Linked DNA regions of Homo sapiens. The protein of the gene in region 1 interacts with the protein of each later gene in a pairwise test. Each region holds a gene or a part of one and is shown on either strand. Other genes may lie near its edges.

Evidence for each region.
Region 2: the proteins of ESRP1 (region 1) and PECAM1 interact in binary tests that used the Homo sapiens proteins (3 or more experiments, as listed by UniProt).
Region 3: the proteins of ESRP1 (region 1) and LAMP2 interact in binary tests that used the Homo sapiens proteins (3 or more experiments, as listed by UniProt).
Region 4: the proteins of ESRP1 (region 1) and CHAT interact in binary tests that used the Homo sapiens proteins (3 or more experiments, as listed by UniProt).

The regions. Positions count from the first base shown.
Region 1 is NC_000008.11:94,700,174-94,707,203, forward strand, and holds part of ESRP1 (epithelial splicing regulatory protein 1), read left to right. Parts: intron 1-5,751; coding exon of another isoform or gene 5,752-5,772; 3' UTR 5,773-7,030. UniProt on the Homo sapiens protein: mRNA splicing factor that regulates the formation of epithelial cell-specific isoforms. Specifically regulates the expression of FGFR2-IIIb, an epithelial cell-specific isoform of FGFR2.
Region 2 is NC_000017.11:64,318,909-64,324,884, reverse strand, and holds the end of PECAM1 (platelet endothelial cell adhesion molecule precursor), read left to right. Parts: intron 1-1,039; coding exon 1,040-1,069; 3' UTR 1,070-5,470; downstream 5,471-5,976. UniProt on the Homo sapiens protein: Cell adhesion molecule which is required for leukocyte transendothelial migration (TEM) under most inflammatory conditions.
Region 3 is NC_000023.11:120,459,290-120,466,319, reverse strand, and holds part of LAMP2 (lysosome-associated membrane glycoprotein 2 isoform A precursor), read left to right. Parts: intron 1-7,030. UniProt on the Homo sapiens protein: Lysosomal membrane glycoprotein which plays an important role in lysosome biogenesis, lysosomal pH regulation and autophagy.
Region 4 is NC_000010.11:49,645,037-49,652,066, forward strand, and holds part of CHAT (choline O-acetyltransferase), read left to right. Parts: intron 1-1,468; coding exon 1,469-1,638; intron 1,639-3,470; coding exon 3,471-3,571; intron 3,572-4,471; coding exon 4,472-4,600; intron 4,601-6,847; coding exon 6,848-6,970; intron 6,971-7,030. UniProt on the Homo sapiens protein: Catalyzes the reversible synthesis of acetylcholine (ACh) from acetyl CoA and choline at cholinergic synapses.

The DNA.
Region 1 (7,030 bases):
ATGGCAAAGTGCTTCCAGTGGACTGCATGGTGGCTACCGAGATACGTCCACATCCTGATCCCTGGAACCTGTGACTATTACCTTCTATGGAAAAAGCTGTAATGAGGTTCTTGAGAGGAAAATAGATCATGAATTATCTGGGTGGTCCCTAGATACAATCACTCGTGTAAGAAAGAGGCAGAGGGAAATCAGACAGAGACACATACAGAAGAGGAGGCAGCAATGTGACGAGGGAGGCAGAGATGAGAGAGCTGTTGACACAGCCCAGGAGTGTTCCCAGCTACCAGCAGCTGGAAGAGGCAAGGACCTGACTGCTCCCTGGAGCCTCCAGAGGATGCACAGCCGCACTGACACAGTTTCTCATTCCTGGCCTCCAGAATTGTTAGAGAATGAATACCTCTTATTTTATGCCACCCAATTTATGGTAACAGCAGTGACAGGAAACTAACAGTATTTTTAAAAATATGTTAAGAGGGCCGGGTGTAGTGGCTCACGCCTGTAATCCCAGCACTTTGGGAGGCTGAGGCGGGCGGATCACGAGGTCAGGAGATCGAGACCGTCCTGGCTAACACGGTGAAACCCCGTCTCTACTAAAAATACAAAAAATCAGCTGGGTGTGGTGGTGGGCGCCTGTAGCCCCAGCTACTCGGGAGGCTGGGGCAGGAGAATGGCATGAACCCGGAAGGCAGAGCTTGTAGTGAGCCGAGATCGCGCCACTGCACTCCAGCCTGGGCAACAGAGCAAGACTCCGACTCAAAAAAAAATGTGTGTGTGTGTGTATGTGTGTGTGTGTGTGTGTGTGTGTGTGTGTTAAGAGGGCCGGGTGCGGTTGCTCATGCCGGTAATCCCAGCATTTTGGTAGGCTGAAGCAGGTGGATCATCTGAGGTCAGGAGTTCGAGACCAGTCTGGCCAACGTGGCGAAACCCTGTCTTTACTAAAAATAGAAAAAAATTAGCTGGGTGTGGTGGTGTGTGCCTATAATCCCAGCTACTCAGAAGGCTGAGGCAGGGGAATTGCTTGAACCTGGGAGGTGGAGGTTGCAGTGAGCTGAGATCACGCCACTGCACTCCAGCCTGGGCGACAGAGCAAGACTCCATCTCAAAAAAAAAAAAAAAGAATTGAGCGATTGATCTCATGGCTGGCTATAGGATCAGGTAAAGAAAGCTAACACCCACAGCGAGGTCTGGTAAAGAAGTCACACTATTCTGTCTTCTCTTGCCTTGTCCCATCAACCCAGCCAACACACGTTGACTATCCCACTGAATCAGTGGAGATATGCTTCATTTAACCATTCAAGATGCCCACAAGCCTTTCTGGGAAGGAGATTGGGTGTCGGGCTGGAAGAAATGCTTCCTCAGATCGCCAGAAAGGGTGTTTTTCTCCAGTTACTGTTACATTCCAAGTTGCTTTCTTCTTTTTCTTTTTCTTTTTTTTTTCTTTTTTTTGTCCCCATAGAGACAAGGTCTCACTATGTTGCCCCAGTCTGGTCTTGAACTTCTGGGTTCAAGCTGTCTCTCTGCCACAGCCTTCCAAAGGGCTGGGATACCGGCATGAGCCACTGTGCCTGGCCAAGTTCCAAGTTTCGTATCTGTTAGGTCTCAAAGGCAATGTCAGCCCCCAAATTTAAATCTATTAATGATATTTTGGCTTGTACATGGTAGCTTATGCCTGTGCATGGAAGATTGCTTGAGCCTGGAAGTTCAAGAATAGCCTGGGCAATGTGGTGAGACCTCGTCTCTACAAAAAATTAAAAGATAGCCAGGTGTCGTCATGCATGCCTGTAGTCCAAGTTACTCGGGAGGCTGAGGTGGAAGGATGGCTTCAGCCCAGGAGGTCGAGGTTGCGGTGAGCTGTCATCGTGCCACTGCCCTCCAGCCTGGACGACAGAGCGAGAGTTAATGAATGAAAACAAGTTTTACAAACTAAAGTTTTATATTAATACATAACTTTTGCTGTCATGATTATAATAATCATAGGGACATAGGGTTTTTTTGTGTTTTTCTGAGATGGAATCTCACTCTGTCACCCAGGCTGGAGTGTAGTACTTAGATCAGTGTTATCTTTCCCTTTTTTGTTATTGGACTGTCAGCCTTAAGCAACAGGGCTTTGCTTTTTTGATAGGTGTGTTTTCTAGGCCTTCCATAGGATCTGTTCTAAAGAGTTCAGATTACATAAACTTTCTAAATAATGAGAAATTCCTACTGAGAAATTTTATGCAAAAATAACACAGTATTTACCTCTGTCTGGACGGTTACCAGTTAATTACATGAAAAAATATAAAAACTGTATTTGATCATTTTGTAACTTTATGTTGCAAGTTCTTGTGTAAGATGATTAAAAAGAACAAACTTTTTATAAGATCTTATTTTTTCCATTTAGATAATCTGAGTCCAGAATAACAGTAAAAACACATAGGAAGTACTTATAGTTTCCTGAGTAGCTGGGACTACAGGCGCACACCACCATGCCTAGCTAATTTTTTGTATTTTTAGTAGAGATGGGGTTTCACCATGTTAGCCAGGATGGTCTCAATCTCCTGACCTCGTGATCCGCCTGCCTCGGCCTCCCAAAGTGCTGGGATTATAGGTGTGAGCCGCCACGCCCAGCCTTCAAGTGAGCCTTTTACCTTAGCCTCCCTGGTAGCTGAGATTATAGGTGTTCTCCACCATGCCTGGCTGTAGAATTGCAGGGTTTTTAAGGGATTATAGGTTCATTCTGTAGCATATAGCACCAGTGGTGAAATCCAGATATCTTTAAAGACTTCTTTGTATGTAATACTTTAATGACAGTGTATTACAAAATAAAAACATGTTTTAACACAGATCTTATTTGAAAGGGAAATCAGATTTGTAAATGTCTGCAGTTGTAATTCTCAACTTTGTTTGCTATAGCTAAACGGGAAGAGGAAACATTATCTCCTTCTGAGATTGATTGTTTTTTTTTTTTTTTTGCTAGCAGTTAGGAGTCTGCAGTTTCTTTTTGTTGTTGTTGTTGTTGTTGAGACAGAGTCTTGCTCTATCCCCAGGCTGAAGTACAGTGGCGCAATCTCGGCTCACTGCAACCTCCACCTCCCGGGTTCAAGCGATTCTCCTGCCTCAGCCTCCCGAGTAGCTGGGACTACAAGCACACACCGCTACTCCCAGCTTATTTATTATTTTTAGTAGAGACAGGGTTTCACCATGTTGGCCAGGATGGTCTCCATCTCGACCTCATGATCTGCCCGCCTCACCTTCCCAAAGTGCTGGGATTACAGGCATAAACCATCGCTCCTGGCCTCAGTTTCATTGTTACACAGTCAAACTCCACTGGCATTAAAAAACGGTTCGAGAAGGCTAAACGTTTAACTTTAACTTTTCCTGGCATTTCCACATTTTATCAGAATATGAAGGCTTAATTTTCAGCATCTACAAAGATGCTATTTCCTAGTATAAATGTGATAGGAATGAAGAAGTTGGTACTCACTGACTCTAATAACTGACAGTCCCAGGGTTGACTGATGTAGCTGGATCCAAGGGTTTGCTCATCCAAACTCACTCTCTGAGATACCCCTAGCAACACTTGGCCTTCACTGGCCTGGCTTACGTTCATCCTAAAACCACAATGACCTGGGATATGCAGGGCTCTAACTGGCCATGTCTGGGCCCCTTGTTTGGCTCAGTGGTAAAACTGCCTCTTAGGGGCTTGAGATTAGGTGATGGGGCAGTTGTTTTCAATTCAGGTGCTACTGCCAAAAGAGGGGTAAAATAGATACTGATCAATAGTGTTGGGTCATTGATTTTCTTATCTGAATTTAGTGTCAAAGGAGAAGCCTTTCAGCATGTGGTATTTTAAACTGAGTGCCAAATTGTGGTCACTTTGGAAACCACATTTAAAAGATGCATCCTAACCAATATTTCCATGTTTTTTAAATACCTGATATTAGATTTGTACCATTTGTAGAATCTATGTTATTAAGGCAGATTTAATCTTGAAATAAATTAATCTTCATGTGCTTCTGAGACTTTTTTTTTTTTTTTTGCTAGCAGTTAGGAGTCTTCAGTTTCATTGTTAAGCAGTAAAACTCCATTAGACATTTCATACTGGCCATATGAAATAAGACTGAAGTCTAAAACATTCCTGTTTTTCATTTACATGTCAAAGTATGCATAATGGCCATGTGTGGTGGCTCACACATGTAATCTCAGCACTTTACAGTACTTTAGAATGCCAGGCAAGAGGAACACTTGAGGCTGAGTTTGAGACTAGCCTGGACGACATAGGGAGACCCCATCTCTAAAATATATATATATCTCTTTTATTTAGCCTAGGGCCAGGTGTTGTGACTCACACTTGTAATCTCAGCACTTTGAGAGGTCAAGGCAGGAGGATTGCTCGAGGCCTGGAGTTTGAGACCAGACTGGTCAGGATGGTGAGAATCTGTCTTTACAAACAATTTGAAAATTAGCTGGATATAGTGGTGTGCCTGTAGTCCCAGCTGTTCAGGAGGCCGAGGTGGAGGATACCTTGAGCCCAGGAATTTGGGGCAGCAACGAGCTCTGATCTCACCACTGTACTCCAGCCTGGGTGACAATGCAAGGCACCATCTCTTTTTGAAAAAAAAAAAAAAAAAAAAAAAAAAACTGCAGTGAGCTATGATTGGATCATATCACTCCATACTCCATCCTGGGTGATGGAGCTAGACCCTGTTTCAAAACAATATATAATGCCTACTAAAAGTTCTTATTTTAAGGTTGTATGGTATATAAGTAAAATAACATAGTGGAACCAATCTGTATTAGTTTAAATCCTGCATCTGCCCATTACTAACTTAATCATTCTGTGCTTCAGTTTTTCCTTCTCTAAAATGGGGATAACAAGGTAATCTAAAAGGTTGTATGTGGGGATGAAATAAATTTATCCATGATCCATATAAAGGTGCTAATCATCAACTAGTCACAGGCATATAGAGCCCATATGTTTGCTGTTATGTCATGCCTTATTGCTTTTTTTTTTTTTTTTTTTTTTTTTTTTTGAGACAGAGTCTCCCTCTGTTGCCCAGGCTGGAGTGCAATGGCATGACCTTGGCTCACTGTAACCTCCACCTCCCAGGTTAAAGCAATTCTCCTGCCTCAGCCTCCCACATAGCTGGGAATATAGGCACACACCACTACGCCCAGCTAATTTTTGTATTTTTAGTAGAGATGGGGTTTCACCATGTTGGCCAGGCTGATCTCAGACTCCTGACTTCATGTGATCTGCCTGCCTCAGCCTCCCAAAGTGCTGGGATTACAGGCATGAGCCACCATGCCCGGCTCCTTATTGCTTCTTATTAAGTGTCTTAGAAATTATTTGGAATTTCTTATACTAGAATTTAACTTTAAAATTTTGTCTAAATTGTTTTGTTTATTTTGGTAATGATATTGAACCTCTAAGGAATGAATGAAATAGTCTCTCCAGAAAGGAGCTGAGCTGAGCAGGGAGTCGGAAACCATACATGTTAAACTAAACACATGATACTACAAAGGGTAGGAGTGGTGCAGAACGCCAACTACTGTGTAAACCATGGAAACTTCCTTGGCTAGTGCTGTACTCCCAAAGCCCTTGCCATGTAAATGCCAACTATGTCTGTGTGAAATAATAACTTGGACCATCTTAAGGCTTTTTTTCCACAAAGTCCTTGTGGAATTTGAAATCATTTTTGTGGCTGCTGAGAATGACATTTAGAGACTATAACATTTCCTTTTATTCACTTTTTTTTTTTTTTTTTTCAGTGTTTGAAAGATGTATGGTGATCTTGAAACCTCCAGACACAAGAAAACTTCTAGCAAATTCAGGGGAAGTTTGTCTACACTCAGGCTGCAGTATTTTCAGCAAACTTGATTGGACAAACGGGCCTGTGCCTTATCTTTTGGTGGAGTGAAAAAATTTGAGCTAGTGAAGCCAAATCGTAACTTACAGCAAGCAGCATGCAGCATACCTGGCTCTTTGCTGATTGCAAATAGGCATTTAAAATGTGAATTTGGAATCAGATGTCTCCATTACTTCCAGTTAAAGTGGCATCATAGGTGTTTCCTAAGTTTTAAGTCTTGGATAAAAACTCCACCAGTGTCTACCATCTCCACCATGAACTCTGTTAAGGAAGCTTCATTTTTGTATATTCCCGCTCTTTTCTCTTCATTTCCCTGTCTTCTGCATAATCATGCCTTCTTGCTAAGTAATTCAAGCATAAGATCTTGGAATAATAAAATCACAATCTTAGGAGAAAGAATAAAATTGTTATTTTCCCAGTCTCTTGGCCATGATGATATCTTATGATTAAAAACAAATTAAATTTTAAAACACCTGAAGATAAATTAGAAGAAATTGTGCACCCTCCACAAAACATACAAAGTTTAAAAGTTTGGATCTTTTTCTCAGCAGGTATCAGTTGTAAATAATGAATTAGGGGCCAAAATGCAAAACGAAAAATGAAGCAGCTACATGTAGTTAGTAATTTCTAGTTTGAACTGTAATTGAATATTGTGGCTTCATATGTATTATTTTATATTGTACTTTTTTCATTATTGATGGTTTGGACTTTAATAAGAGAAATTCCATAGTTTTTAATATCCCAGAAGTGAGACAATTTGAACAGTGTATTCTAGAAAACAATACACTAACTGAACAGAAGTGAATGCTTATATATATTATGATAGCCTTAAACCTTTTTCCTCTAATGCCTTAACTGTCAAATAATTATAACCTTTTAAAGCATAGGACTATAGTCAGCATGCTAGACTGAGAGGTAAACACTGATGCAATTAGAACAGGTACTGATGCTGTCAGTGTTTAACACTATGTTTAGCTGTGTTTATGCTATAAAAGTGCAATATTAGACACTAGCTAGTACTGCTGCCTCATGTAACTCCAAAGAAAACAGGATTTCATTAAGTGCATTGAATGTGGATATTTCTCTAAGTTACTCATATTGTCCTTTGCTTGAATGCAATGCCGTGCAGATTTATGAGGCTGCTATTTTTATTTTCTGTGCATTACTTTAACACCTTAAAG
Region 2 (5,976 bases), on another chromosome or scaffold:
CCCATTGCCCCTCCAGCAACCCCTAGCAACCACTGTCTACTTTCTGTCTCTATGAATTTGACTATTTGAGGTACATCACATAAGTGGAATCATATATTTGTCCTTTCATGTCTGCCTTATTTCATTTAGCATAACGTTTTCAAGGTTTTCCTGTGTTGAAAATATATCAGAATTTCATTCTCTTTTTAAGGTAGAATCATATCATTTTAAAACATTTCAGTTGGACCATCTAAGTTCAGTCCTTCATTTTCAAAATTAAAAAACAGGCCTCAAACGGGTACATCTCACGTTAGCTAGAGACAGAACTGGAGCTAGAAGTCAGATCTCTTACAAAGTTGCCTTTCTTCTTCTGTGGGTAAGTGGGGCACCCTTGGGACGCTGTGCTGGGCGTACATGGGTGCTTGATGAAGTTACTTGGTGGACTGATGTGATTGATGTCCAACATGTATGCAGGGACAGAGGCTATGGTCCCTACAGAGCAGGCATGGAGAGAAGGAGAAATACATACGGGCAGGAGCCAGGAGAGGGAGGGTGTAGTGAGCAGAGACCGCGCCACTGCACTCCAGCCTGAGTGACAGAGTGAGAATCCATCTAAAAAAAATTGCTTGCTAAAGAAGTGGTCTCCTGAGGTCTTAAGACGTTCCTGACAATGTCTTGAGTGGGTGGGAGAGAGGCTGCAGTCATTGTGCTGTGGAATTTCAGAGGTGAGAACCACACCTAACCAAAATTACTTTCCCTGTTTGCCTCAGTGACACAGCTGCAGGAACCCTGGTGGGTGTTGTATTAAGTAAATTTGACCTTTATTCTTTGCAGATCTGTGAAATGTTGTCTTCTGAGGGGCCACGTGTATCTGTAGTGCTGAGGACTCCTTGGGCCTCTGAAGTCACAGAGAGAACCCTGCAGGGTGGGGGACCAGTGTGTGACAGCCCTGCTTTGCATTTTCTTTGAGAAGTGCTGTCATTTTGCATTTCTCTCCACCAGGGCAATCTTCAATCTTGAGAGGTGTGATCATAACTTGCCTTGTTTCTTGTCGCTACAGAGAACGGAAGGCTCCCTTGATGGAACTTAGACAGCAAGGCCAGATGCACATCCCTGGAAGGACATCCATGTTCCGAGAAGAACAGATAATCCCTGTATTTCAAGACCTCTGTGCACTTATTTATGAACCTGCCCTGCTCCCACAGAACACAGCAATTCCTCAGGCTAAGCTGCCGGTTCTTAAATCCATCCTGCTAAGTTAATGTTGGGTAGAAAGAGATACAGAGGGGCTGTTGAATTTCCCACATACCCTCCTTCCACCAAGTTGGAACATCCTTGGAAATTGGAAGAGCACAAGAGGAGATCCAGGGCAAGGCCATTGGGATATTCTGAAACTTGAATATTTTGTTTTGTGCAGAGATAAAGACCTTTTCCATGCACCCTCATACACAGAAACCAATTTTCTTTTTTATACTCAATCATTTCTAGCGCATGGCCTGGTTAGAGGCTGGTTTTTTCTCTTTTCCTTTGGTCCTTCAAAGGCTTGTAGTTTTGGCTAGTCCTTGTTCTTTGGAAATACACAGTGCTGACCAGACAGCCTCCCCCTGTCCCCTCTATGACCTCGCCCTCCACAAATGGGAAAACCAGACTACTTGGGAGCACCGCCTGTGAAATACCAACCTGAAGACACCGTTCATTCAGGCAACGCACAAAACAGAAAATGAAGGTGGAACAAGCACAGATGTTCTTCAACTGTTTTTGTCTACACTCTTTCTCTTTTCCTCTACCATGCTGAAGGCTGAAAGACAGGAAGATGGTGCCATCAGCAAATATTATTCTTAATTGAAAACTTGAAATGTGTATGTTTCTTACTAATTTTTAAAAATGTATTCCTTGCCAGGGCAGGCAAGGTGGCTCACGCCTGTAATCCCAGCACTTCAGGAGGCTGAGGTGGGCGGATCACCTGAGGTCAGGAGTTTGAGACCAGCCTGATGAAACCCTGTCTCTACTAAAAATACAAGAATTAGCCGGGCGTGGTGGCGCATGCCTGTAGTATCAGCTACTCAAGAGGCTGAGGTGAGATTATCGCTTGAACCCAGGAAACGGAGGTTGTAGTGAGCGGAGATCGCGCCACTGCACTCCAGCCTGAGTGACAGAGTGAGAATCCATCTCAAAAAAAACAAAAAACAAAATTGCTTGCTAAAGAAGTGGTCTCCTGAGGTCTTAAGACATTCCTGACAGTGTCTTGAGTGGGTGGGAGAGAGGCTGCTGTCATTGCGCTGTGGAATTTCACAGATGAGAACCACGCCTAGCCAAAATCACTTTTCCTGTTTGCCTCAGTGACACAGCTGCAGGGACCCTCGTGGATGTTGTATTAAATAAATTTGACCTTTGCTCTTTGCAGATCTGTGAAATGTTGTCTTCTGAGGGGCCACATGCATCTATAGTGCTGAGGACTCCTTGGGCCTCTGAAGTCACAGAGAGAACCGAGCAGGTCTATGTTTTTGTTTTGTTGTTTTGAGACGGAGATTCGCTCTTGTTGCCCGGGCTGGACTGCAGCGGCGCAACCTCTGCTCACTGCAACCTCCGCCTCCTGGGTTCAAGCAGTTCTCCTGTCTCAGCCTCCCGAGTAGCTGGGATTACAGGCACATGTCACCACGCCTGGCTAATTTTTGTATTTTTAGTAGAGATGGGGTTTCACCACGTTGGCCAGGCTGATCTCGAATGCCTGACCTTTGGTGATCTGCCCGCCTTGTCCTCATGTGTGCTCCACAGGCCTTTGGGTTGGGATTGCAGGCGTGAGCCACCATGCCCAGCCTAGACTCTTTTGACAATATGATGAAAGCTGTTGGTTCCTTTCCCCAACACACACACACCGAGTTGTATCACGAAAATGTCATACAATTTCCAGGTTTTCTGAGTGGTGGGCTCAGATTGAGGTCAAAGGATCAGACGACCTCTAACGACCTTCATGTCTCTGTTGATGATCTGGGGACAGCCAGATCCCCTGTGTCCAGGGAGTTCCTTAGTCCCTTGCCACCACCAGAGAAGGGCAATTGCCACGGGAGCTGCAAAGACCCTATTCCTACTCCTGGTGCCTTACTTATGCAGCACGACTGAATTTTTTGTTTTGTTTTGTTTTGTTGAGACAGGGGCTTGCTCTGTTGCCCAGGCTGGAGTGCAGTGGCACAACAATGGCTCACCGCAGCCTCGAACCCCTGGGCTCAAGCGATCCTCCCATCTCAGCTTCCTGGGTAGCTGGGACCAGAGGCGTGAGCCGCCATAGCTGGCTAATTTTTAATTTTTTTTTTGCAGAGATGAGGTTTCACCATGGTGCCCAGGCTGGTCTCGAACTTCTGGGCTCAAGTGATCCTCCCTCCTTGGCCTCGCAAAGTGCTGGGATTGCAGGCATGAGCCACCGCCCCCGGCCTGTGGAGCACACATGAGTTTAAAATTACTTTCCCTTCTGCCTATATTTCCGAGGAGGAAACTTCATGCGCAGGGATCTTTCTTAGTGGATTTAATGGCTAAAAGGTCTGTCTGAATCCAGGACGCTGGCTTTAGCCTTCCTCGGCAGCTGCCGTAACCCCGGTGTCTAAACCTGAAGCATCCCAGGAGCACCCACTCCAGGAGTTTTCTCGGCCGCGGAACTCATTAGTTAGAGCGCCCTCTTGTGTTCTCATGTGGTAATCGGTCACTGAAGGACTTAAAATGGTCCTTAGCCAACACACAGTAAAACTTTTCCCTCTTCTGACCCCAAGAGGTCAGCCACCCATTTCATGAGCATATACTGGTCGCCCCATCAGCGTTCTCTGATTGGCTAACTGAACCCACTCCCCGACCTAGACTCAAGACAGGCGAAGTGACGCTTAGGTCAACATTCACTCACTAAAGCAACGACTGTCGGGCGATTTTGTCTCCCGCTGGTTTTGGAATGGTGTCTGGAGACATTTTTGGTTGTCACAGCTGGGTGGGTGTGCTCCCGGCATCTGGTGGGTAGAAACCAAGCATGCTCCTAAACATCCTACAGGCACAGAACCGTCTCCCACGACCAAGCATGATCAAGTCCCAAATGCCAATAATGGCCAGGTTGAGAAACTCTGCACAGAAGCATCCAGTTATTTGTCTGTTTGCTCAACAAGCTTGTGCTCATCATGCTCTGTGTTCCTGACGCTGTGCTGGGTGTTGGCGGTGGGAAGATTACAAGAGTCACATGGCAGCTGTCCTCCTGGAAGGTACAACCCAGTAGAGATGCAGACTAACAGAGAGCCAATTACAAAGCAGTGTGACAAGCGTCATGGTGGAAAATTAAAAGCTCAAACAAGGGCACATGGGAGGGGCTTCCAACACAGACTTTGGGGGATCCAGGAAGGTCTAAGAGGAAAGTGGGTCTCACCAAAGCCTTGACCATAGGCAGAGGGTACCAGTGGAAAAGGTGGGGTGAAGAACATTGAGGACAAAAGGAAGAAGTGCAGGAAGGCCCTGAGGCAAGGGAGTGGGGGGTGCCCTGGAGGGATGGCAGCAGGGCAGTCTGTCAGACCCAAGTGGCCTCCAGCCCTAGAAGCCAATTAGTCCTCCTCAAAAAGCTGTCACTGTCCCCTAAGAATTGCTGCCAGGCTCCCACTGGCCTGACTCAGTCTTTGAGAGTCTTAAGGAGGAGGTCTCTGAAAGGTACACACCAAGAACTCTCCCCAGCACAGCTGTTTTTAAGACTCTCCACCAGCGTCATTGGCGTGTTGGGAAGAAACCCTCTGCCACAGAGGCCAGCTTCAGCCTTTGCCTAACACCGCAAGGGCAAATGGAAAGGTAAACGGGAAGGAGATGTCTCCCCAGCAGGCTATTTGAGGACAGTCTTCCCTGCAGAAGATCTCAACCTGGGGTCCACAGAGTGGAAATGTTAGAGTAGGGAGCTAGGCAAACATGAGCAGGACAGGTGAGGGCCCCCACAGGAATGTCAGGCTACCATCAGGTGATGGTCAGGTGGTTGTTAAACTGTCTCTGTAAAATAATAATTGGTTGCAGCCAGCTCCAAGCAAGGACAGTCTCTCAATAGATACAAAACACCCTGATCTGGTGATCAGCCGCTTCCCGATAAGATCTCAGGAGCTGGGCAAGCAGCCTGGAGCATGCGCACCAAGAGGCAAAATGGCGGAATTTAACCAGTATATGACCTACCTTCCTCTGGGAACGCACGACTGGTAAGGGGAAAAATGCCTCAAGTGAGCATGCGCGCAACTTCAGTAATCACACTGTGCATGCGACCCCTTCCAAGTGCTGGCAGGTCACCACATACGCGGACAGCCTGCTGCAAGGGAAGAATCAGGGGAGATGAGACGTAAATCCCAGAACTATGCCAAATACATAAAACCCCAAGTTAAGGGTCAGGCAGGGCACTTAGATCTCTCAAGTTGCCTGCCTGACCCAAGTGTAGTGTACTTCCTTTTGTTCCTGCTCTAAAACTTTTTAATAAACTCTCACTCCTGCTCTAAAACTTGCCTTGGTCTCTCCCTGTGCCTTAAAACCACTTAAAACCACCTCTGCCCCTCAGCTGAGTTCTGTCTTTGAGAAGGCAAGCATCAAGTTTGCTGCAGACCCATTGGATTCACCACTGGTAACAGAAGTTGGGGTAAGGCGTGGGGCCTGAGAATTCTCTAAGAGTAGGTGCAGCCGGGCGCGGTGGCTCACGCCTGTAACCCCAGCACTTTGAGAGGCTGAGGTGGGTGGATCAGCTGAGGTCAGGAGTTCGAGACCAGCCTCAATATGGGGAAACCCCATCTCTACTAAAAATACAAAATCAGCCGGGCGTAGTGGTGCATGCCTGTAATCTCAGCTACTCGGGAGGCTGAGGCAGGAGAATTGCTTGAACCTGGGAGGCAGAGGTTGTGGTGAGCCAAGATCGAGCCATTGCACTCCAGCCTGGGCAACAAGAGCGAAACTCTGTCTCAAAAAAAAAAAAGAGTAGGTGCAAAAGGTTATGAGGGTGTGCAGTTTTCTATG
Region 3 (7,030 bases), on another chromosome or scaffold:
AATAATAGTTGTCCTACTTGTTGGCTTTCATGTCATTAAATTTTTTTTTGTTTTTTAATGAAAGCTTTTTTGTTTTGTTTTTACAAAAGCAATGCTTACTCACTGCAGAAAATAAACATGCAAAAAGAAGCACATAAAAGAACCCATCAGCTCATCTGCTAGTTTGCCATTTATTGATCAGGACTAACTAGATTCTTCCTCTTGGAAAATTTCCAAGATTGATTCCCTCCGCCTCCAAGTTCAGAGCAGGATTTGGAAAAGTAAATATTAATAATGTACCTAGATCTGATTTTTAAGAGGTTCCAGGATGAAATAGAAACCATTTTTCTATACAGCTGCATTTTCTGATGGCTCTTGGTTCAGTGTGGAGCCCAAAGTCCTCCCATATAGCTTTTTCTGTCAAGAATTTAGCAGTTGCTTGGTGGGTTTTGCACAAGTTACTTTTCTATATCAAAATGGATACCAATAATAGGTTTTTGAAAACTTAATAAATATTTGTAAAGTACCTAATATGTAGCTAAATCAATAAATATTTGTAAAGTACCTACTATGTAGCTAGAACTGTGCCTGGGTACTGTACGGAGTGCCAATGAAGGAGGACCTGTCCTAAATTTATAGTCTTATTAGCATTAGTGCTCTAGCTGTGCCAGTTTGACTTTGTAACTTTATAACTCTATCCCAGCTTCACCCATAACCTTTTAAAAACAGCAGCTTTAGAATAAGTACAGAAAAGGATTCTTAGAGGCTATATATTGGTCTTTTTCATAGAGATTAAATTATGCTGGTGTTTATTTGGATGAATTGTAACTGACCAGACAACTTTCCGAAGAGAAGCTATATGATTTAGAGGTGTTATAAAGTGGATAGTGGGTGAAAATCCTTTCTTTATATAATTGCCTAATTATGGTCCTTTTGTGATATCATAGATTTCAGGATTCTTCTGTGGTTATTGATTCTTATAACTAGCTTGACTTCTGTTTTTTGGTTTGTTTGTTTGTTTTTTTAGGGTTCAGAATTTTTTTTTTTTAGGTTTGAGGCTTTTCTGGGTGGGAAAAACCTCACAGAAATATTCTTAGTGTATGTTACTGGTAGGAGCCTCTCCCTTCCACACGTTTACTGAATGCCTATTGTGTCCCAGCCACTATATTAGGTGAAAGGGACAGAGGAATGGATAAGACAGATGAGGTTCCTGCTCTCATGGAGCTTACATTTTAATGGGAGAAGAAAGCTCAACAGATAAATAATATAATGTCAGATAGTGATAAACACTATGAAGAGGCCGGGCATGGTGGCTCACGCCTGTAATCCCAGCACTTTGGGAGGTCAAGGTGGGCAAATCACCTGAGGTCAGGAGTTCGAGACCAGCCTAGCCAACATGGTGAAACCCCATCTCTACTAAAAATACAAGGGCATGGTGGCCAGCACCTGTAGTCCCAGCTACTCGGGAGGCTGAGGCAGGAGAATTGCTTGAATCCAGGAGGTGGAAGTTGCAGTGAGCCGAGATCATGCCACTGTCCTCCAGCCTGGGGGACAAGAGCAAAACTCTGTCTCAAAACAAAACAAAACAAAAACACTATGAAGAAAATTACACAGGTAATGAGAAAGGAGAATGAGTAGATGATAGGAATGGGTGATGGTGGATGATCCTTCTTTATATTATGTGGTCAGAGGGCCTTCCGTTATCGGGTGACATTTGGGCAGAGACCTGGGTGTTGGCAGGAGGCCAGCCATGTGACCATCTGGGGAAATAGGAATAAATCTTATCATTTGCAAAATCTTAGGTTACTAGCCTATTTTCCACGCTTTTTTGTTTCCCCCTAGTTTTAGTCAAGTCTCTCCTATGGTAGCAGTCTCTAAGAGCAGAGACGATCTTATGTACTGTTACTTCCCATTGCCTACCTAGCATAGGGTCTGGTACATGGTTAACCCGTAGTGAATTTTTGTTGAAGATATTCATTGGTGGGCACTAGGGATATGGTGGTAAACTAGACTCATTTAGTCTCCTTTTTCTTCCATGAATTTTAAATGATGTTTTGCAAGAAGTTCTTTTGGATTGAAAACTTCAAGATCAGTGCTAAGCAGTACGGATAATTATACAGTAATTTACTAATGTATAATCCCATATAATAATGCTAGTTTCTTACCTGTACTCCTTCAGATATACCTCCGTAGTCTCGAAGGGGGTAATATGGAGAATTAGGAGTTCCTTGGTGAGGAGAGTTAGGTTTTCACAAAGTTAGGTTTTCTCTGAGAGAAAACAAGCACTAAGATTTTTCTATAGGCTTAACACATTTCATTTAACTGATAACTTTGATTTCGAGGTTCTGCCAAATTATTCTAGTTATAATAGAGATACTGTAAAGGACTGAAAAATTCTGAACCCTAAAAAAAAACAAAAAAAAAACGAAAAACAGAAGTCAAGCTAGAAGATAAGAAAGGACAGGCTTGTTAGTTTGTTAGTCATTGATTATCACATCTGATAGGGTTATAGATATTCAAATATGTCCCAAATACCAGATTAGTTTGTTAGTCATTGATTATCATATCTGATAGGGTTATAGATATTCAAATATGTCCCAAATATCAGATTGTCACATCTGATAGGGTTATAGATACTCAAATATGTCCCAAAAGAACAGCTTTCTTCCCCTATATCTTTGGGTAGATTTTGTCTATAACCAAGCATTATTTCGTAGCACTGGAGCTGATTTAAATGACCCTTGATGCAGGAAGGCTGCTCTTCTTTCTGTAGTGCAAAAGTATTCTGATCATAATTTCTTATTAAAGTGATCAGAGATCCCCTCAGACCCAAAAGTATACTTTATAAGTACTTGTTGGTATCCTGCTGTGCATTGTGAAAGAATTCTGGAGGTGTGCCAAACACTGCTCAACAATAAGCACTTTCCATTAGTTGAGTAGTGTTGAATCTTGTTTCCTTACCCACTCTTTGGCCTTAACAAATTAAGTCATTTTATAGCTTAAAAACATATTTTTATTAACTTTTAATACTCTTTTTCATGTGTTCAACATTCTTACTTTAAAATCATATTGCTTTTCTCCTTTAAGAAACTTACCAAAAGCAAGGGTATAAAGTAACTGAATGCAATGAGTGTACCTATTATTAGGAATTATAAAGGAGAAACAGTTAATCTGACTTAAACTTGTAGGAAAACCATCACTCTGAATAGAAAACAAAGATAAATAGGTACCGTATGCCTCTGTGTCCTGTATTTTAAAAAGACCTTTTGCTCAACATCATTCTAAATTCATGAGTTTGAGGACAAGAGTCCAGAATTTAATATGATGAAAGTAAACATAAAGCTAAAACTTGGGAAGGTTCCCTTTAGGTGCTGTGTTTACTAAAAAGGAGACTTGTAAATTGGTATCTAACTTGTTTGGCAAATTTCTTTTAGCTCTGAAGGGTTTATATGCTTTCAAAGAACCTATTGGAGAAATATGCACTATAATTCTAAACAAGGGTAACTTGCCCAAAGTCTCACAGCTAGGAAGTTGGACTGCCAGATTTGAGTTCTAGCTCTTCCACTCCAGGAATGGGGACTCTTAATCACTTCATTATATAATCAATCCATTGTATCTTGGATCATTGTTTGGTTTCTTTTTATTGGTTTTGTTTTATTGCTAGCATTATGTTCTTCCCCCACCCCTAATTTTGTGTGTTTATGTTTTCAGCTATACTTTGGGTCAAATAGACTTGCAAAAACCTAGCCACTTTTTGCAGTGTCATACACTTGGGGAAGTAAGGTCTGTGTTCTCTGTGAGAGGTTTTTTTTTTTTTTTTTGACAGGGTCTTGTTCCATTCCCCCAGCTGGAGTGCAGTGGAGTGATCTTGGCTCACTGCAACCTCTGCCTCATGGGCTCAAGCGATCCTCCCATGTCAGCCTCCCGAGTAGTTGAGACCACAGGCATGCACCATCACACCCAGCTATTCTTTTGTATTTTTAGTATAGATGGGGTCTTGCCATGTTGCCCAGGCTGGTCTTGAACTCTTGAGCTCAAGTGATCTGCCCCCCTTGGCCTCCCAAAGTGCTAGGATTACTGGTGTGAGCCACTGCCCGGTCAAGGTCTGCATTCTAAAAGAATTTACAAATGACCTTTTTGGAAAACAGGATTGAGAGGATATTTGACTTTGAGAACGGTTGATTTTGAGGCATACCTTTTTCTTTTATTTAGAGAATAAACTCTCAGCTCTAAAATTACACACTCTAGAATATATTCATCTATGGTTTTTTAATGTCATAAAGCCTTTTAAAAATTGGGTATTGTAAAATCAAACACAGCAATAAGGATGGAAATTGCTTGCTAGATACTTTTTAATAAAGTGTAAATATTTCAACTGTAAACTTACCTTTTGGGAAAAGCTCTGTTCCTAGCTTGACATCCATGTCAAAATTTATTGAAGTGAAACCCAACATGGGGTTTGAGGGAATATCCAGAAGACTGATATGTTCAAGATTTGGAAGAGCTAAAGGACTGGCCTCTCTGTAATTAGATTAAGCTATGTTTTGGGTCCCTATTGCAGTGTGTTTTCACCTTGATATAATTAATCAGTATTTATTGAAAATCTAATATGCATTCAGCACTACTTGGAATGATAGGAGATAGAGGAAAAGTAATACACATGGTGTCCCCTACCATGACACTCATGATAGATGACATTCATATAAAAGACACACTGCTAGGGGTTGTGGGATACATCAGATCATCTGATCAAGGGAGCATACTGGAGTTCAAACGAGTGACAGAAATGTTATCTAAAGGGAATCTTGAATCTATCCATATATATCATTCATTCACAGACTTGGTACTTTTTTTATTAGTAACAAATTACTTACTGTATACTATAATTTACCATGGCACACCAGTTTGTTATGAAGTGACAGTTGAAAACTGCTGTGTTGGAGCTTATGACAGTAGGAGGGACAGGATTTACTGCTATAAAATAACTGAATAATTCAGGATAATGTAAAATATACTGAAATGGGATGTGCATTATTACTGCTCCTTGAGGGCTTTTATAGTCAGGGAAAGCTTTGTGGAGAAAATGGCTACTGAAAAAACAGATAGCATATCAGCCCAGGTTCTTAATTGCAAGGAAGAGAAATACAATCTGATTGATTTTAAGCAGAAAAGAATTTATTAAAAAGAACTGGGATATAATGCATACCCTTTGGCCCCACAGTTTCATTCCTAGATATACAGCCAACATACACGCATACATGTGTTTACTAATATGTGCAAGAATGTTTGCAGCAGTGTTTGTAATAGAATCACACTGGAAACTAAATGCCCATTAAAGGTAGCATAGATAAGTAGTTTTTTTGTTTGTTTGTTTTTGTTTTTTTTTGAGACAGAGTTTCATTCTTGTTGCCCAGGCTGGTGGAGTGCATTGGCATGATCTTGGCTCACTGCAACCTCTGCCTCCCGGGTTCAAACGATTCTCCTGTATCAGCCTCCTGAGTAGCTGAGATTACAGGCATGTGCCACCATGCCCAGCTAATTTTTATATTTTCAGTAGAGGTGGGATTTGGCCATGGTGGCCAGGCTGGTCTCGAACTCCTGACCTCAAGTGATCCACCCTCCTTGGCCTCCCAAAGTGCTGGGATTACAGGCGTGAACCACCCCACCTGGCCTGTATTCACCTGATCATAGAAGGTTATACAGCAGTGAGCACAGACTGCAATTATGCATAACATGGGTGAATCTCACAAAACCTAAAATTGAGGAAAGAAAGCAGACACAAAAGAGAGCATAGTGAATGATTTTATTTATATCAAGTTGAAAAATGGATAAAATTAATCTATAGTGTCAGAAATCAGGATAATGGTTACCCTTGGGAAGGGAATAGTAACCCTTGGGAAGGGAAAGGGAAATAAGGAGGGCTTTGGAAGTGTAGTTGACCCTTGAACAACACAAGTTTGAACTGTGTGTGGATCTACTTATACATGAGTTTATTTCACCTCTACCACCCTGAAGACAGCAAGACCAACCCCTCCTCTTCCTCCTCCTCGTTATGATTTTTTTTTTTTGAGACGGAGTCTCTATCTGTTGCCCAGGCTGGAGTGCAGTGGCGCGATCTCAGCTCACTGCAACCTCTACCTCACAGGTTCAAGCGATTCTCCTGCCTCAGCCTCCCAAGTAGCTAGGATTATAGGTGACCACCACCAAGCCCAGCAAATTTTTAGTGGAGATGGGGTTTCACCATGTTGGCCAGGCTGGTCTCGAACTCCTGACCTCAAGTGATCCGTCTGCCTCAGCCTCCCAAAGTGCTGGGATTATAGGTGTGAGCCACCATGCCCAGCCCTCCTTATGATTTTCTTAACATTTTCTTTTCTCTAGCTTTATTTTCAAAACACAGTATGTAACACATATATAACATACAAAATATGTGTGAATCGACTGTTTATGTTGTTGGTAATGCTTCCAGTCAACAGTAGGATATTAGTAGTTAAGTTTTGGGGGAGTCAAAAATAATATGCAGATTTTCAACTGTGCAGTGGGTCAACACCTGTTAATGTTCTGTTTCTTGACACAGGTGGTTTTGGTTTGTGAAATTATTTGAGCTGTAGACTTAATGTTACGTGCACTTTTCCCTTACATCTGTTATACTGTGCCTGTTTCTGTACATATGTTACATATCAAATGTTTATTAAAGGGGTATATTGGGTAACTCAGAATTTCTGGTGCTCCTGGCTATATATACCAAATCCCAGTTCAGGATTCAACAACCCAGATCATGCTGCTGAACTGCACTACCACTGCCAAGTGTGAAATTGAAGCTTGCTCTGCTGGCCTTGTTGCCTGGGAGCTTGATCCTGCTTCTGTTACTCCACACCTGTCTCCCTCCCTGTTCCATTCCTGGCTCCATTTGCAGCCCTCCTTTCAAAGTGTGGGGTGGATACCTTTGTTAGGCAGAGCCTAGCACAAGTGGTCCTCCTTACTGCAAGGGAGTCTGGGAAAGCAAGTATCCAGTGTTTTCAGCTTTTATAGTGGGTGGTGATTTCTGCCAGAA
Region 4 (7,030 bases), on another chromosome or scaffold:
CCGGAAGCTGTGGTGTAGTTTTTTGAGATCTTGCTCATAGAATTTAGACACCTGGTTACCCCTAGCTGTAAGGGAGGCTGGGAAGTATAGCTCTAGTTTGTTATCCATGTACCAAGCTAAAAACCAGGGGTTCTACAAGCAAGGAAAGAAAGGACATGTGGTGTGCAACTAGGAGTCTCTACCATGTAATGAACCTTTCCCTGCAAATGCCATGCACCCATCTTCCCACACACAGAGCACTCTCACCCCTGCCCTGGGTGCCTCATCCTGTCCCAGCATCCAGCCCCCAAGGTCAGGCTCTCCTGGTGATACGCAGCCCTCACCATTGGGTCTTGAAGTGACTCCTTGGAATTTTAAACCAAAATGTTAAACTTTGGGTGGACTTTTTAACTTTTGGTGAACTTTAAACCAAGAGGCAGGCTGTGTACCCCCACACCCAGTACTGAGCAGTGGAGAGAACATCGTCAGCACAATAGACTCCTGTTTGGAAGAAATGGGAACACGCAGCGGGAGCAGGCCTGGCCCCCAACAGGTCCTGCCGGGTGGGCTTGGTGAACCTCCCTGTGCCCTGTGGAGGAAGCTGCCAGGGAGGGCAGCTTCTGGTGCTCTCTGGGAGGAACGCATGTGTCCTTGGTGAAATCACGTGCTCTGTGCCTGACTCCCGCTCCTGAAGAGCCGTCCTTGTCTGTACTCTTCCAGTGCCACCAGGGAGGGGGATTCCCTTTTGAGACCTGCTTACTCTAGAAGAATGTCTAGAGGAGCCTGGGAATTGGTAGAGGCTAACACAAAAGCCAGCTGTGGGCCAGGCTTGGAGCTCCTTTGGATCCATGAGTCCAAAACTGCCCCTACAAGCTCATCCAGATGTGGGTTCAAGGCAGCCTGGCCCTTCTGCCTGCAGCTCTGCCTCTGAACCAACAGCTTGGGGGCAGGGAGGTGACCAATACACTTCCTTCAGGTTTTAATGTGAAATTGCCTAATTTTGAAATTGCAACAACAATTTTGAAATTGCAGTTTAGATGTCTGAAAGTCATAGTTCAGCACAAACAAGCATGCCTACACACAGATGTGGCTCACAGGAGCCCCAGTGGAGGGTGCTGTTGGGTGGGGGATTAAGGGCCCTTCCACTGATGTGGGCTGACATGAGGGTCTAAGCATCCCGCTTCATCTTGGCATGCATGACCAATAGCCCACACATCTGGAGGAGAGCTGGTCACAGCTGGAGAGCAGGGCTCCTGCAGGGACCGTGCGAATGAGCTGGGATCCTGGGGTAGGACAGAGGCTCAGGACACTCTGGCTGACTTCACTGCCCACCCACAGTGGGGCAAGGTGGGGGGTCAGGGCTGGCTCAAGACCTGGGTCTTGTTGTGATCCCAGAAGACAGGGCTGCCCTGCCCTGTGTGGGGCTCTGAGGAGGGAAGACTGGCCTGGAGCGGGACAGGTGCTAGGGCTGTGCCTGCCTCCCCTGCAGACTCCACCAACCGGGACTCGCTGGACATGATTGAGCGCTGCATCTGCCTTGTATGCCTGGACGCGCCAGGAGGCGTGGAGCTCAGCGACACCCACAGGGCACTCCAGCTCCTTCACGGCGGAGGCTACAGCAAGAACGGGGCCAATCGCTGGTACGACAAGTCCCTGCAGGTAAGCCGTCCAGGTGGCCCTGCAAGAGCACAGCCATGCCCCCAGCGAGAGAGTGAGTAGGCAAGCGGGCACAGCCTGGTGCCCAGGCCCGCACGTGCTTGTGTCTGGCAGGCGCACTCACTGGTTTCTGCTGCCTAAGAGGCTGGGTCTGAGGGGTCAGGAGAGCTGGAGGGGTCTGAGATGTGCTGTTGATGTCAATCTCTGGACCAGCCAGAACTCTTCTCAGGAGCCAGTGGCCGAACCCAACTCAAACTCCCTAACCTTCCTGCAGCCTGTGCCAGGAAGGTCTGGGCCAGACCTGGGGCCCATTTCCCATCACCCATCACACCTGTGAGGTGGGGGTGTGCCAGGAGTAGGAGAGTATAACAGCCCCACTGAACAAATCCTTAATGCATGCTGAAATAATAATTTCTGATGCCCAGAGCTGTCAGCTTTTTGGATGTCCACCCCCGTGGCCTGGCGATTTCAACATACCTCCCTCAATCCCTGAGAAGTAGAACAGCCCAGCATCTCCATGGAAGAAAGACTGTAAGATGAGATAAAATAATTCATATATGTTCATTTACATGACATCAGCCTAGAAGCAAGAAATTTACTTTGACCTAGAGAAAAATACCCATGCAGACGGGATGAAGTCAAGGTCAAACCATTCATTCCCATTCTGCCATCCTCCTTTTATTCCCCCAACATGCCAATCCTGAACCTAGTCTTGTTTATTTTAAAGTCACTACACTTTTATATGATATGCCATGTAGTATAAAACAGCAGGCAAAAACAAAACATCTCTCTACTTTGGGTTAGCAAAGCTCACATTGATAAGCATATCTAGACAACACCTCGTTTTCCTTTCTCTCTGTCCCTACATTCTGCAGGTTTTCCTTTTTATTGGTTTGCATATTGATTCTGTTATTTCTGATGCGCTCTCCAGCTGCTGGGCCAGCTGTTTTAGCCTCTACAGTGGTGCTAATGGCTTATCATCTTTCATGGAGCTGTGGGGGTGAACCGATATAATACATGCACAGAATCTGGAACTCAGCCTTGGTAGCAGTTTTCAAAAGACACCGCTTTCCTTCCTTCCTTCCTTCCTTCCTTCCTTCCTTCCTTCCTTCCTTCCTTCCTTCCTTCCTTCCTTCCTTTTAGTGACAGGCACAGATAAGTACTAATGTGGGGGGTGGGTGCAGCCCTCTCCACCACCTCTCATGGGTTAGTCTATGCTGACCTCCAGGTTCTTTTCATCAGCAGGGCAGATTATCAGGCGAACCAGAGAAGCCAGCAGGGCTTCATGGACCTGAATTCAAGATGATGGAGAACTGGTCTCAGGATAGCAAGGCAGGGGACACTGGGGGCGGGAGGGGAGGGCCTGCAAAGGGTGAGTTTGGGGAGAAGCTCTGTGGGAAGTGAGTTTCTTTGTAGAATGGGAGTAAAGATCCAGCCTCTGGCACACAAGGCAAGAGATTGGGAGGAGACCCCGATGTGAGCTATGACAGGAAACAGGGCTGAAGGGCCTCACCCAGGCCCCAAGGGCAGCTGGGCAGACTCGTCCTGAGGATGAACTCCTCAGAAATCCCTGGACTGCTCAGTCCGGGAACTTGGGGCTCCACCTTCACTGCCCACAGCTTTTACGGGAAAGAGGTCGTGAGTGCAGAGTAGTCTTGGATTCTCATATTCTCAGGCCACTGCAATCACATGCAGTGTTCTCTTCAGGAAATAATGTGCTCTGGTGTCCCTGGAGAAGAGGTGCCCTGAGAAGCCAGGGGCCTAACCTGGGGCCAAGGGGCTGCCTTGCAATGCTGACTCTCCCATGATCGCCCACTCCCTCTTTCCTGTTGCAGTTTGTGGTGGGCCGAGACGGCACCTGCGGTGTGGTGTGCGAACACTCCCCATTCGATGGCATCGTCCTGGTGCAGTGCACTGAGCATCTGCTCAAGCACGTGTGAGTCTGGATCCCAGGGCTGCCATGCTGGGCCCAAAAAAATGTGGGTGGTCGCTGGGGGCTGTGTCAGTCTGGAAAGCGTCTTAACAAAAGATGAATTTGAAAAAAATGTGTACTATACACACACACACACACACACACACACACACACGATGAATTTGAAACCCAGCTTTGTATGCGACATCATGTGCTTCACGGGCCATGGATAGGAGGCAGCAGATTTACGGCAGTCAGGGAGAAGCATGGCAAGGAATTCTCAGGAACCTCTGCCTTGAGAGAGGGGAAGCCTACATCGATACCTATTGCTTATCCTGAGTCAGGGCCAGGCCCACGGCTGCCCCAGCACAGGGGGAGTTCTCTGAGTCTCACTGCTTCCAAATCCCAAGGCTGGGTCCCTCCTTAGCTCCCCAGCAGGGTTCCTCTGTGCCCTAAACACATGGTATTCCTTCCTCTATTCCCAATTTTACCCATTCTCTCCTAGAATCTTCTCCCTGCATCCAAGTCTTCAATTTCTTCCATGAAACTCAGGGTTACTGAAACCTAAACCAAGCCTAGTAGGCACAAACCTTGTAGAAGAGAACAACACAGCTTGCTCTTAAATTTCTCTCCAAGTCTTCTGTAAGGGTGTAACATGGTCTAATAGGAAAACAATGAAAAGAAATAATGGGTTTTGGAGTCAGGCGGAACTGGATGGAGCCCTGGCCCTGCCACTTAATGATTTTGGTGGCCTCTCTGAGCCTCAGTTTATTCATCTGCACGGTGGTTCAGGGGCAGCTCGTACCCCCTGAAACTCCATGGCCGCAAACACTGACAGCTAAGATGATTGCACAGAGCAAAGAAGAGATGCCTCCCACAGCTGTCTGGCCGCAGAGCCTCAGGAGGTTGCCTCTGTGCCCGCAGGACGCAGAGCAGCAGGAAGCTGATCCGAGCAGACTCCGTCAGCGAGCTCCCCGCCCCCCGGAGGCTGCGGTGGAAATGCTCCCCGGAAATTCAAGGCCACTTAGCCTCCTCGGCAGAAAAACTTCAACGGTAAGGATAACCGAAGTCTCCTTTGAGGGGTCCCCTAGGGACCACCCCGCCCTTGCCTACTAGCTCCCAAGGCTCCCTGGAAGTTTCCAAAGACCCCAGCTCCTCTGCCTCTCCTTGGGCTCCACCTCGTCCCCATCCCTCATGTAGTCAAATTAAAGGAGAGATACAACTCTGGGGAAATAACCTTGCTGAAGTATCCATCATTTCTCTAAAATGCAAACGCAGGGCTATTTTTTTTTTTTTTTTTTTTTTTTTTTTCAGTTTCACCTGACTGAGCAGAGTCAAGGCCGGGAAATCATCCCCTGCTTTAGGGGGAGTAATAAACAACTGGTTTGAATAGGTCATTTGAATTCAAGCTATTTAAATTTGCTTGAATGTACAGTGCAACTTGACAAAGGGGCCTTTTTCCCCAAGGGGAGGGGGCCGTTCAGGCCCTAACGGGACCCAGGCAGGAGGGCCTGGGGCAGCAGCAAGCAGTGGTGGCAGCCACATCCTGGCAACCACGTCTGCACTGTAGCTGTTGATTCTCCCATTCAGTAAGCAAGCACGAATGCATTCATTCACTGGTTTGCTCATTCATTCATCAAACATGTGCAGAGCTCTGGTGTGCACCCGGCCCGTGGTAAGGCTCTGAGAACACAGAAAGTTAAGTACCATGGGACCTGCACTCCATATTTGAGTGGAATAAGTAGACTCCCAGGCCAAAACATGTGATACAGTAAGATTAATGCCAAAAGCAGAAACAGCCATGCTGACCTGAACCCACAAAAATATAGAAGCTGAACTCTGTCAGGACTGTGAGGGAGGGCCTTGTAGAGACGGGCCTTGAAGGATGGATAGGAGTTCATGGTGCAAGCAGATGGGGAAGAGGCAGAAAGGCAGCTTCTTCAAGCTTGTACAAGTTCATAATGATGAAGGCTGGTTTGGAGACCAGCAAGTGAGAGAATGGCCAGAGTGGGGCCACAAAAAGGAAGTTGGGCCACACTGTGATGAGTGTCACTGTCCTGTTATGGGCCTAGAGCCTGCCCTGCCACTGGAGGGTTCTGTGCAGGGGGTATGGGGACGCCCCTGAGGAGGCTGTGGGAAGGGCACATGTGAGCAGGACAGAGTGTGGCCAGGCTGGGAAGCTGAAGAGCGGGAAGGACCCATCCACTGGGAGCTGCTGGAGAGGTTGCCTGGCTTCAGTGGGCATGGAGGGGCCTCAGGTGTTCTATAAAGTGGTGCTCACATCTCAGCTTTGCAGGGTTGTTCAGGAGCTAAGTCAGGGGCCAAGGCAGTGAGCTGGTGGGCTGCTGAGTCCTCAGTGGGTAAAGGAGTCCACTCACTTCCAGGGACCTGAGCAGACCCCACATTCCCCAAGGCCCCCAGCTCCACCCTCCAGAGGCTGAGGAGAGCCAGGAAAGGCCCATGGATGGGGAAGAAGGAGGCTTCTTCCTGGGGGTCCTGAGGGGCCCATACAAGTGGGTGAGGCCCGAGTGGGCACAGCTTGGGGGAGAGATTTCCAGGTGGCTGTGGTGATAGTGAGCTCAGTCTGTCCCAGACGTCTGTCAACAGGTAGGTCTAAGGAGCGAGTACTCATGGGAACTGGGTCTCCTCCAAGTCCCCCTGTGTTCCTAGCACCTGGCCCCACCGAGAGCTGAGCTGCTGTGAGCAGGAGGAATACTTCAAGGAGAGGCAGGCAGGGAGCATGGAGTCCCGACAGAAGGTGTGCGTGTGGGCTCGGGGTTCCCACTCAGGCTATGCGCTCTCCAGTGGGGAGGCACATAGACCTTGCCAGACACTGCTCCAGTGGGCAGTCAGCTCAGACCCCAGACTCCTGATGGAGGAGGAGATTGTTCAATATGAGGGTCAGCCAGTGCTCCAGAGTCTCAGTGCAGACTTGGAAAATGTTCCTGTTACTCCGACAGTGAATTACAAAATCCCGGGCATGTCACCTGTGTCACAGTTAATCCCTGACTCACTAACACAGCCAGGCCCACCTCCCCACCCACTCTCCAGAGCAGGGCCGACACCCCACTCAGCTGAGCTCACCTTGGGTCATAGTAGTCCTGGCCTGGTTTGTCTTCTGACACTTTCATAGGTCAAGGCATGTCTCTGACACCTCAGTGCACTCCTGAAGGGCAGGGACTACGTCCGCACCTTCCAGAACGCTAGGACACAGACCAGGCTCTAGAAGCCCGGGGAAACCCCAGATGCATGCATACTGTTTTGCATGCAATAAAAACATCTTTTCTTTTTCTTCCTCAGAATAGTAAAGAACCTTGACTTCATTGTCTATAAGTTTGACAACTATGGGAAAACATTCATTAAGAAGCAGAAATGCAGCCCTGATGCCTTCATCCAGGTGGCCCTCCAGCTGGCCTTCTACAGGTGAGTGAAGGTGGAGTGAGTCTGTACCCTGGAGGGCTGACGGACACAGTGCTGTAGGAT